Homo sapiens: one gene and its partners. The protein of the gene in region 3 interacts with the protein of the main gene of each other region in a pairwise test. Each region holds a gene or a part of one and is shown on either strand. Other genes may lie near its edges. The genes, in order: BAHD1, PELI3 and ERN1.

Region 1 (3,745 bases), on a different chromosome or scaffold from region 3:
GAGGCGGAGCTTGCAGTGAGCCAAGATCTCACCAATGCACTCCAGCGAGACTCCGTCTCTCAAAAAAAGAAAAAAAGAAGAAAGAATAAATGGACTTCTACCACCCAGTCCCCCATCTTGGGAGGCTCTGTCTTCAGAGCCTCTTCCTATCCTGTGATGAATATCTAGTGAGAGAAGGACAGGGGGAGAGAACAAAGAGCTTTGCCACCAGCTCCTCCTATCCCCTGTCCCTGGGGTCTGCCTTGCTCCCTAGGCTCTTCAGGGGCTTAGTTCAGAGATACCCTAGGCTAAAAGGAAAGAGGAGGAACCAGTCCTTGCACAGCTGCTGGTAGCTTGATTCCACTGCCCCTTCACACTCTGGAAAGGGAGTCCCAGGAAAATCCATACTGGAGACAGGGTAGTTGTAGGCCAGGATCACTGCACCTGGGGCTGGGTAGGCTGCAGTGGGAGAGAAAGCAGGCAGGAGCAGGCCAGAGAGGGCTTCTCTCATTGCCCACCTTCTGTCCTGCAGGTTGGAAGTACTCCATGACACACACTCGGAGAAAGTCCCTTCCCATGCTGAGTTCGGGCCTCACTGGCCGCCGAGAGCCCCTGCAGATGGAAGACAGCAACATGGAGCAGGGGGTTGAGGGTGTGGAGCCAGGCATGCCCGAGAGCCCAGGTCACCTCACAGGGCGCCGCAAGAATTACCCACTTCGTAAGCGCCCATTGGTTCCTGAGAAGCCCAAGGCCTGCAAAGTGCTGCTGACTCGCCTGGAGAATGTGGCCGGTCCCCGGAGTGCAGATGAGGCTGATGAGCTACCGCCTGACCTGCCCAAGCCCCCCAGCCCGGCCCCATCCAGTGAAGACCCTGGCCTTGCCCAGCCCCGCAAGCGGCGCCTGGCCTCCCTCAATGCTGAAGCTCTCAATAACCTGCTGCTGGAGCGAGAGGACACCAGCAGCCTGGCAGGCACCCGCCGCAGTCGAGCAGGGGATCCCCACCGCAGCCGTGACCGTGATCGTGCTACTGGGGGCTGGTCCTCCTCCAAGAAGCGGCCCCGGCTGGGGGACCTTGGAGGAGGAAGTCGGGACCTGTCTCCAGAGCCAGCACCCGATGAAGGTCCCCGCCGAGATGGAGACCCAGCTCCCAAGAGACTGGCTAGCCTGAACGCAGCTGCTTTCCTAAAACTGAGCCAGGAGCGGGAGCTACCCCTGCGGCTGCCTCGTGCCCATGCAGAAGTAGATGGGCGCTCCACTGAGCCCCCAGCACCCAAGGCCCCGAGGCCAAAGTGGCCCAAGGTCAATGGCAAGAACTATCCCAAGGCTTGGCAGGGGGCCAGCTCTGGGGAGGCTGCAGGCCCACCTGGCTGGCAAGGCTGCCCTGATGAACCATGGCCATCTGCAACTCCTTGTGGGCCATCCGTCCAGCCATCTCATCAGCCCCTGAGCAAGGCTCTGGAGAGCCCTTTGGGGCTGCGCCCTCACCTGCCCCTGCTGATGGGTGGACAGGCGGCTCTGAAGCCGGAGCCTGGGCGCCCAGGCGAGGAGTCACCTGCCCCTAAGCAGGAACTGCATCAGCCCTCTTTCCCCACACCTCAGCTGTCGCCGCTGCCGATGCCTGGCAACCCCGCCGACTACAATGGCCTGTGTGTTGGGCCTGAGCTCACTGCACTAGGCAGCTTCTACCTGTACTGTGGCCAAGAGGGGCTGCAGTGTGGGGGCTACTCGCCCTGCCCCATGCTTCCTGAGGGCAAGCTGTCCCCAGTGGCTGCACCTCACGAGGAGGGGCTCCTCTTAGCTCCGAGCTCAGTGCCCTCAGGCACCCCTTTCCAGCACCCTCCCTGGGGCTCCTCTCGCTACTGCTCTAGCGAGGACACTGGAGTGAATGGCTACAGCATCTGCGGAGTGTTGCCCCTGTCTGTTACCCACGCTGGCACTACCTGTGGCGGCTGCCCATACAAAATGCCTTTTGCAGCAGGTGAGGCTTCCTGGGCCCAAGATGTACTGGGGAGTCTCGGAGACATGGCATCCCAGGAGGTTGGGCTGTTGATCTGAGCAGGGGTCTCCCTTGGGGTCTGGCTGCTAACTGGAAGGTAGGGGGCTTTCAGAAGTGAGAACTCCCGTAGTCTGTGCCCCAAGCCGAGGAGCATTCCCAAGAACAGGGCCCGTATAGCTCTGGACAGCCTTGCTCTGCCCAGGCTACCTTTGGAGATTCTTGGCCTGGCAGTTAGGTAGCATTGCAGTGGTACAGGCCACAGGAAGGCCTCTCTTCTCTCCTCATTGGGATACCCGTTCTTAGACTCTGAAGAGCAGGTTAGATATTGGAATTAGGACTTTTACCAAATTGTTCTCACGGCCCTTCTACCCTCCTTGAGGAAAGCTAGAATTCCCTAGTTTCTAGAAACCAGTACTCTCTGCATGCTGGCCAAGTTCAGCATTCATGGGAAAGGTGGTAGGTACCAGGCTCAGTAGGTGGTACCTACTGCACAGGGCAGCTTTGCCCTGGCTATAGAGGCATTGAAAGAGAAGTGCCCAGACTGAGCATCACTTTGCTGGGTGTGGATAGAGAGGGTGCACCATGAGAACAGACAAGCAGAGTTCCCTGACATGGATGGAATGCGATCAGGGCCCACAGCTTTGGTGTCTGCCTGCCTGACAAGACCCAGACACCTGAGAGGCCCATGCTCCGGCTGTTGAGACACTCCCAGAATCATTTCTCTTCCCTAAACTGGCAGAGGTATCCTCACCTGCCTCTTCAGGCTCCCTGCCTGCCTCCTGGGTGGAAATGAGACATGCTGGCCAGCAGGTCTGCCCTGCTGCTGGGGAGGTGAGGGCTGGACCTTCCAGATCTCCCTTCCCCTGACATCCTTTCTTGTAGGGGTCTATAAAACAACTTTATAGACCAGTTGGCCCTGGCCAGACTGGTTGTTTCAGGTTGTGGCTTGAGTTAGAGTTCTTATGACATGAGAACAGGCTGCTGCTTGGGGTTTTCCTTCTTTTTTTGTGCCATTCCCCAAGTCTAGACCCTTATCCCCTCTCCCTAATAATAAGGACACCAGTAAACACCATGTACCAGGCACTGTTCTGAGTGCTTTACATATGGGAGGCTGCTTGGCATGTAATTGAGCACAGACTCCGAAGCCAGACTGCCTGGAGTGAAATGTTCTCCCCCACTTTCCTAGCCATGTGACTATGGGCGAGTCAGTAACTGCTCTGTGTCTCAGTTTTCTTAACTATAAAATGGGTGTAATGATACCTATCTCACAGGGTTTTTGTAAGGATGAAATGAGTTAATGTGTTCGTAAGAAAACCAGCCAGTTGCTCTGAGGGGCAGAGTGACTTGCCTGAAGTCACATGGCTAGTAAGTGGCAGAACCCAGGCTGATTCTAGAACCCCTATTCCCAAGCATTATGAAAGCCTTAGAAAATTAATATCAGGGCCAGGCGCGGTGGCTCATGCCTGTAATCCTAGCACTTTGGGAGGCTGAGGCGGGCAGATTGCCTGAGCTCAGTAGGTTGAGACCAGCCTGTCTAACATGGTGAAACCCTATCTCTACTAAACATACAAAAAAATTAGCTGGGTGTGGTGATGGGCACCTGTAATCCCAGCTACTCAGGAGGCTGAGGCAGGAGAAATGCTTGAACCCGAGAGGCGGAGGTTGCAGTGAGCCAAGATAGCACCACTGCACTCTAGCCTGGGCAACAGAGCGAGACTCTGTCTCAAAAAAAAAAAAAGTTCGGAGTTAAAAAGGATGTTCCAACCACCT
Region 2 (3,745 bases), on a different chromosome or scaffold from region 3:
AAGCTGGAGTTCTTGGAGCAGAGCGCTGGATTTAGAGCCAGAAGCCAAGGTTGGAACTTAGGCATCTGCTACTGGTGTCCTAACTCTCCCTTCCTCTCCCTTACTTGGGCAATCCTGGTGTCGGGCCCACCTCAGCCTCCCTGAGGCCTGATGGTCTGGCTGTGCCACCATGCAGCTCCAATCCCAGTACTGCCCCAGGAGAAATCCCTGCCTCCTCCTCCAGTGAGTCTTGGTGATCCCTCTCAGACCTTCCTCCATGCAGTCCAGTGTCAGGTGGAAGCACTGGGGCTCCTGTGAAGCATCAGCTCCACATCTGCCTGGCTTGTGACCTGGGGCAAGTTTCTTCTTCTGCCTGAGCCTCAGCTTCCTGGTGTGTAAATTGGGGATTATAACAGGGATTCAGTATATATTCACTGAGGACCTGCTCTGGCAGGCAATGCATTAAAAGCTGGGGGTACACAAGGGAGTGAGGCTGTCCCAGGGTCCCCGTGCACACCCAGCACAATGGACGCCTCTGGTGGCATCAGTGAGGGCAGCTATCCTGTGTCACAGGGTTTGTGTGACCTGCAGCCAGCAGCCCAGCGGTCTGGTGGTGTCCTGCTTGGTGGAAGTCTCGCAGGGAGATTCTCTGTGACTAACGAGTGTCTTTTCCCCTAAAGGATGTGCCGTCGGCTGCTTTCTTGTTTCATCTAGCCGCTGGGCCCCAGAACAGTTGGCAAAGCAGTTGGTATCTTTGGCTATTTTTAGGTGGAGGAGTTAGCGGGGTGGATATAGTAGGGCCCCAGGGGAGTCTGGTAGATGGGGAACTTCAGGTGCAACAAGTTTGTGGGGGTGGGAGTGGCAGCGGCTCCCTCTCAGGAATGTTTAGGCAAACTAAACATGCATCCTTCATAATGGAAGTCAAAAGCCACCTCCTCTGTGCAGTCTTCCTTGATTTTCTCATTAAACACCCCCACCGCCCCCCACAAGACCAAAGACTTGATCTGGAACTATAATCCAGCCTTTATAGTTCCAGACCAAGAGTACTGAGCAATAGGGACCTTACCTGATGCAGACAAGGTTTCTCTTCTGCACCTCTGAGGCTCCATCCCTAGTCAGAACGACAAGGTACGAAGTTAGGAGTTGAGACTGAAGCCACTCATACAGCTGAGATTCTCTCTTGGCCCGTTTCTAGCAAACTACAACAAGCAAGTCACTTTTGTAAATCTATTTCCTCATCTGTAAAATGGGCAACTATCGTGCCTGCCTCCCAGGATTAAAGTAAAGGGTTTAATTTGCTCAAAGCACAGCGCACAGCGCCTAACGTAGACTGATAGATCTCTCGCAAGCCCCAGGCCCAGAAGGGGCGGTGCTCCCCCAAAACTCTCTTTCCTTTGCAGCACAGCGGGGGGTGTGTGCATCCTGGCGGAGGGGAGGGGACTGAGGGGAGGGGAATGGGGGGTGCCCGAGCTGGGCTGGAAGACAGGTCTGCGACTCTGGTCAACTGCAGCTGCTTTCCCCGGCCTCCACCGCTGCCGCACACCCCCTTTGCCTTTAGCATTTTCCTCCTCTCCTCTAATTGCGTGGCGTCCCCAGATGGTAGGCGGGGTGTCGGAGCTGGGGGTGCGTAGTCCCGGGCCTAAGGCTAGGGAAGGGGCCTCCAGCGCCGTGTGAGGGCCCTGACCGACAGTGGGGAGGGGCGCCCATGTCTCTGGGAGAACCCCGGAGTCCCCGGAAATGGAGGCGGAGTTTGGGGAGTCTGAAATGGGGGAGGGGTCGTGTAGACTACGGGGGAGTCCTGAGCCGGCTAGGAGGGGCAAGGGAGTCCCTCAGACGGAGTGGAGAGCGGGGCTTCCCTGGTCAGAGGGCGGTACCAGGGGAAGGGCGTGGTCTCCTGCGAAGGGGCGGAGCTCCGCCTACGAAGGCTGAGCATCGCCGCAAGAGGCGGAGTCTGGAGCGAGGCGGAGCTCTCCTAGGGGCGGGGAAAATGGGGCGGGGCCTCCGGACAGGGGGCGGAGCGTGGCTGTTCGCGCTCATCCCCCTCCCCCGGCCCTGGGTGTCCCCGTGACGAGGCAGCGCGGAGCCGCCGCGGGCCGGGCCCATCCCGCCGCAGCGGCCCGGGGCCGAGCAGGGGCTAGGCGGGGAGGGAGCGGCGCCCAGCGGGGCCCGGAGCGTGGCCAGGTGAGGCCGCCGGGGCGGAGGGGGCGGGGGCTGCGCCAGGCGGGCCCCGGCGGGCGCGGGGGGCGTGTTTGCGTGTCTGGGGGTGGTGGAGGGAGTGGGTCCGAGGGCGGGCGCCGGTGGCTGCTGCGCGCCCGCGCGTCCCTGCGGTCGCGGGTGCGGGTGGTCTCTGCGCCGTCCGGGCCCGGGGCGTGCGGGGCCGTGCACGCGCGCGTGTTGTGCGGAGGGGCCGCCGGGTGTGGACCTGCGTAGGTGCTGGGCCGCGGTTCCCGTTCTGCCCGCCCGGGGCGCAGGGCGCGGGCCTGCCCCGGCGCGGTCCCTCTGGCGCGGGGATGTTTTCCAAACGGGCTGCCTGCGGGAGACGGCTGTGCTGCAGCCCGAGCTCGAGGGGGGAGCGCCGCCTCCGCAGGCCTCCTGAGACCCGGGCGGCTGGGGACGCAGACAGACACCTGAGGGAGGGAAGAGCGCGCACCCAGGAGGAGTCTATTGGCCTACCCGCAGGGGGAGGCCGAGATGGGGAGACTGAGGCAGATGGTGAGGCGGAGGCGGGCAGACAGGCAGAGATGGGGAATGGGGGGAGAGAGACGGCAAAAAGGACAGCGGCTGGGAGGACAGAGAGTCATTGAGAAAGCAGATGGACAGACAGAGGCCTAGACCTCAAAGGGGCAAGAAAGATTCAGATGGACAGGTAGATTCAAAGAACCTGTCAGAGAGGCTAAATCAGAGGTCCAGAGGCTAAGAGCTATAAGCAGGAACTGAGTCTGAGATGAGGGGTAACGGCCCCCAACTCATTGGGTGCCCCGCTTTGAAGCACATCCCAGACTGGGATCTTGGCCAAAAAGCAGCCTCTGGCCACCCCAAGTTGGTCCATCTCTTTGGCACCACTGAATATCCTGACTCTCTTCACTGTGCCACCCCTCCCTGGTATCCCAGCAACCTCGGGCAGTTTAGAGGAGGCAGAGGGGAAGTGGTTGCCATAGCAGTAGAGGCGGTGAAAGGTCACCCTTGCCTTAGCCTAGGCGGCCCTGCAGCAGGCTGCAGCTGGAATTGAGCCGGGCTGGGGTGGGAACCTACAAAGCTCTTTTCTCTCCCACTCTGCCCAGAATGGTGCTGGAAGGAAACCCTGAAGTGGGGTCCCCCCGAACCTCAGACCTCCAGCACCGGGGGAACAAGGGCTCTTGCGTTCTCTCCTCTCCCGGTGAAGATGCGCAGCCAGGCGAGGAGCCCATCAAGTATGGTGAACTCATCGTCCTGGGGTGAGCATCCCTGGCCTAGAAGGGGTGAAGCACCAGACACCCACCCAACGCAGCCAGAACAAGGGCCCGACCCCTCCTCCCCCCACATAGGGCCTTCAGCTGTTTGTCCCTCCTCACCTTCCTAGCTGAAAGACAAAATTGACCAAACCCACCTCAATTCATAATTATTATTTTATCTTCCCATTTTTCACAAAGTACTGTGACAACTCTAACCACCCAACTTCCTGATCAGATGAGAAAAATGTTAACACCAGCTGCCTTTCCTAAAGCACCTAGTGTGTGTGGTGTGGGGTGAAGAACTCTGGTTCTCCAGCAAAACTGCTTGGTTCAAA
Region 3 (3,745 bases):
GAGAGCTCTGGGAGTCAGGGGCGAGCTCCAGCTGTGGTGGCCATGTTCCTCCTGTCCCGAATCCAGCACCTTCCTAAGGGAAAATCCAGTGAGGTAGAATAAAGCATGGTAGGTTTGGAGATTGGAAGACCTGAGTCCCATCCTGGTTTATCACATCCAGCAGTGACCCTGAGCTTGTCATGCAACCTTTCTGTCCACGTTCTCATCTGGGGATGAAAGCATTTGCTCTGCTCGCCTCACAAGGTTGTTGTGAGGCTGAATGAGAGTGCTGTGTTGTTCAAGGTGTGTCTCCTCCAGCATGGGAGGTGATGAGCCCCTGCTTCCTCACACTAGACCCTCACTTCACCTGGTGGAGAATCTCAGAGGCAGGGCCTACTAACAGGGACCCAAGCTGTGCTCAGGAACCACCTTGGTATTACACCCCAGGTAGCATGAGCTAAAAAACACAAACGTACATTTCCCTCGAAGGAAGCTATTCTGTAGACACAGAATGGTTTCATGGGATAAGTGAGAGGCTTTCTCGGATTAACATCAAACATGACCTCCTTGGTAACTTGTCAGATAGTTTCTTTCTAGGGCTGTTTTTGAATCATAAGCTGTTTTATTCACTTATTAGCAATTTTGATACCTACTGTGTGCAGGCACCATTCTGGGCCCTGGGGGTACAGCAGGGAAGCAACGACACAGAGACCCTGTCTGTGAGCACTTTCGTGTTGGGGGTAAGGAATATATAACAGCCAGGAGGGCTTTTGATGGGCCAAGCACTGTCGTAAGCAACCATTTTTGCATATTAATGCATCTCTTTTGACAACAGCCCCATGCTGTCAGTGTCCTCATCTCACATGAGAGGGAACCAGGGGCTTCCAGGTGGCTCCAAGCCCAGGTTCTCCACTGGGACCTCTGACACCCATGCAGTGCTGCAGGTTAGCCCTCGCTGCTCTGTGCAGCTCACATATGTCAGCTGATTCTCCCAGGACACCTTCTAGGTGGCAGAAGCAGCAGCAATGCTCCTCCCTCCCTGACTGTGAGTGAGGATGAAAACTCTGCTCCCAGACCTCTCACGCCTCATGTCTCTTTTCAGACCTACACGGTGGACATCTTTTCTGCAGGCTGCGTCTTTTACTACGTAATCTCTGAGGGCAGCCACCCTTTTGGCAAGTCCCTGCAGCGGCAGGCCAACATCCTCCTGGGTGCCTGCAGCCTTGACTGCTTGCACCCAGAGAAGCACGGTGAGCGGTCCAGGGGTTGGGGTTGGGAGCAGCTCCTCAGCTGCCTCAGGTGGCCCTGCAGAGCTGGGCTGGTGCCACCTTTGCACTCACAGAGGCCGTGGTGCCCCAGCTGCTCACCCCGCAGGCCTCAGGACCTCCAGACTTGTGCCAAATCTGGTAGAGGGTTGGTAGGGTTATCTCTGGGGCGCCACCTTCTAAAGCTGAGATGCTCCAAGGTTCCTCCAGGTCACCAACTACTTGTGTGACCTAGGCAAAGCCCCCTTTGGAGACCTTCTTTTTCTACCTGGTGACATGAGGGTTGAATAATCAGAGGTCCCTTCCTGCACTGGCATTTGGGAAGACAAATTGTCTTCTCTCTTGGGATGGCGAGTGGTCAGTAGGTGCAGTCTGTGCTGGGCTGGGGACAGACAAGCTTTATCCTCACCCTCCTGGTCTCCTGGTATGGGTGCAACAAGTCTTTCTTCCAGACTTCAGGTTTTCCTGGGTGGTAATTGGCCCATGACACTCCAGTGCTGCCTTTTGAAAAAATTACAACTAAATTATTGTTTTGTTTATGCTTAATTTTTCTTATTATAGAAAACACAGATTAGCATAAAGGCCCATATATTCCCATTATACAGGGATGAATGATGGCTATTGATACCTTTGCATATACGTTATTCCAGTCATTTATCTAGACGTGATTGCATATTTTATAAAAATACAGTTAAATCCTGCATACTGTTTTGCAGCATGCACGTTTTTCAGCGTCACCTTGAATCTCTCTCCACGTCAATCCATATTTAGTCACAGCCGCACTTTAACAGCTCATGGCCCAGCGTAGGGAGGCACCGTAGTGTATCCACTTGGGCCTCTGATACTGGATGTTTACAGTCACTTCCTTCACAAACCATGCAGTGAGGACTCACCTCTTTGGCTGAGGTTTTGTGTCTGTTCCTAATTATTTTATTGGAATAAATTCCTGTAAATAGAATCATAAATGAGAGGGTGTGCAGCTTTTTAAAGTTTTTGGTATTTCACTGTGGCTTTGGACTGGTAGTCATGAGTTGCTTATTTTCCTCCTTTATAGAAGACGTCATTGCACGTGAATTGATAGAGAAGATGATTGCGATGGATCCTCAGAAACGCCCCTCAGCGAAGCATGTGCTCAAACACCCGTTCTTCTGGAGCCTAGAGAAGCAGCTCCAGTTCTTCCAGGTAGAGACGTCTGTTCTCTTTATCCAGAGTCTTCATTTAATGTTTTTCAGATTTTGAAAATACAGAAAAGGACAAAGAATAAAATAAATTGCCCATTACCCTAAAACTGGAAGATAATCATGGCTGATGTTTTAATGTTTTCTTCATATATAAAAGTATAATTGGGATCTAACCGTATATACAGTTTCAGAATCCCTTTTTTTAACTGTACATGATATTTTAAGTTTCTTTCATGTTAAAGTTCTAAAATTCCAATGACCATAGTATTCTATCATATGGATGTGCCATAATGGTTAAGCTTTATATTATGGAATTTCCAAATATATAATACATAAATGTTTAAATGCTATAATGAGCACTCCTTTATTCATCCCTCAGGTTCAATAAATATTAACCTTCACCCTCTCCCCACCCCAGGTTATTTCGAAGTAAATCTCAGGCATCATATAATTTCATTCAAGTGTCATAAGCTTATTTATTTATTTTTATTTTTTTTGAGACAGCGTTTCACTCCGTTACCCAGGCTGGAGTACAGTGGTGCAATCTTGGCTCACTGCAACCTCTGCCTCCCGGGTTCAAGTGATTCTCCTGCCTCAGCTTCCTGAGTAGCTGGGATTACAGATATGCACCACCACGCCTGCCTAAGTTTTTTTGTATTTTTAGTAGAGATGGGGTTTCACCATGTTGGCCAGGCTGGTCTTGAACTCCGGACCTCAGGTGATCTGCCCGCCTCAGCCTCCCAAAGTGCTGGGATTACAGGCATGAGCCACCAGGCCCAGCCCAAGTGTCATAAATTTCAGTGCTTTCTTATATTGTATTTGTTTCTATCATCTTTTACACAGTCTTGGCCCAGATCTCCTTTTGCTTAAAATAGGTTCTGCAAAGTTAGAACTCCTTTGGTGATTTGACTGTTTTAAAGCTTTGTGACAATGTCAGGTGACTTTTGAAGAGGTAATGTGTTTTTCAAAGTCTTCCATGTATGAATTGAACATAACTCACCCGAACGCCTCCTGCCCAGCACGTGGCTCTGAAAGCAGGCTTGTGGGGCAGTGCTTTTCCCCTTGGGTCCAGGCAGAGTGCAGCTTGGTGGGCACCGTACTGAGAAGTGACCATCATGCTCTCCTGGGGTCTGACTGGGGCCTTGGCCAGAGGGAAGCCCCCAGAATGTAAGCTCCTCGAGGACAGGAGTGCTTGACTGCTGCATTCACTACTGTGTCCCTGCCTCCTAGGGAGGACGCTGCCTGGCCCAACCATTCAGATGGATCGGGTTGGGAAGAGTTTAATGCTGTCTTCCATGTTGTAGCATATGGATTGGTCAC

Evidence for each region.
Region 1: the proteins of ERN1 (region 3) and BAHD1 interact in binary tests that used the Homo sapiens proteins (3 or more experiments, as listed by UniProt).
Region 2: the proteins of ERN1 (region 3) and PELI3 interact in binary tests that used the Homo sapiens proteins (3 or more experiments, as listed by UniProt).

Annotation. Positions count from the first base shown.
Region 1 is NC_000015.10:40,457,940-40,461,684, forward strand, and holds part of BAHD1 (bromo adjacent homology domain-containing 1 protein), read left to right. Parts: intron 1-511; coding exon of another isoform or gene 512-525; coding exon 526-1,957; intron 1,958-3,745.
Region 2 is NC_000011.10:66,464,868-66,468,612, forward strand, and holds the start of PELI3 (E3 ubiquitin-protein ligase pellino homolog 3), read left to right. Parts: upstream 1-2,037; 5' UTR 2,038-2,160; intron 2,161-2,262; exon of another isoform or gene 2,263-2,691; intron 2,692-3,260; 5' UTR 3,261-3,261; coding exon 3,262-3,413; intron 3,414-3,745. UniProt on the Homo sapiens protein: E3 ubiquitin ligase catalyzing the covalent attachment of ubiquitin moieties onto substrate proteins. Involved in the TLR and IL-1 signaling pathways via interaction with the complex containing IRAK kinases and TRAF6.
Region 3 is NC_000017.11:64,046,539-64,050,283, reverse strand, and holds part of ERN1 (serine/threonine-protein kinase/endoribonuclease IRE1 precursor), read left to right. Parts: intron 1-1,081; coding exon 1,082-1,229; intron 1,230-2,298; coding exon 2,299-2,426; intron 2,427-3,745. UniProt on the Homo sapiens protein: Serine/threonine-protein kinase and endoribonuclease that acts as a key sensor for the endoplasmic reticulum unfolded protein response (UPR).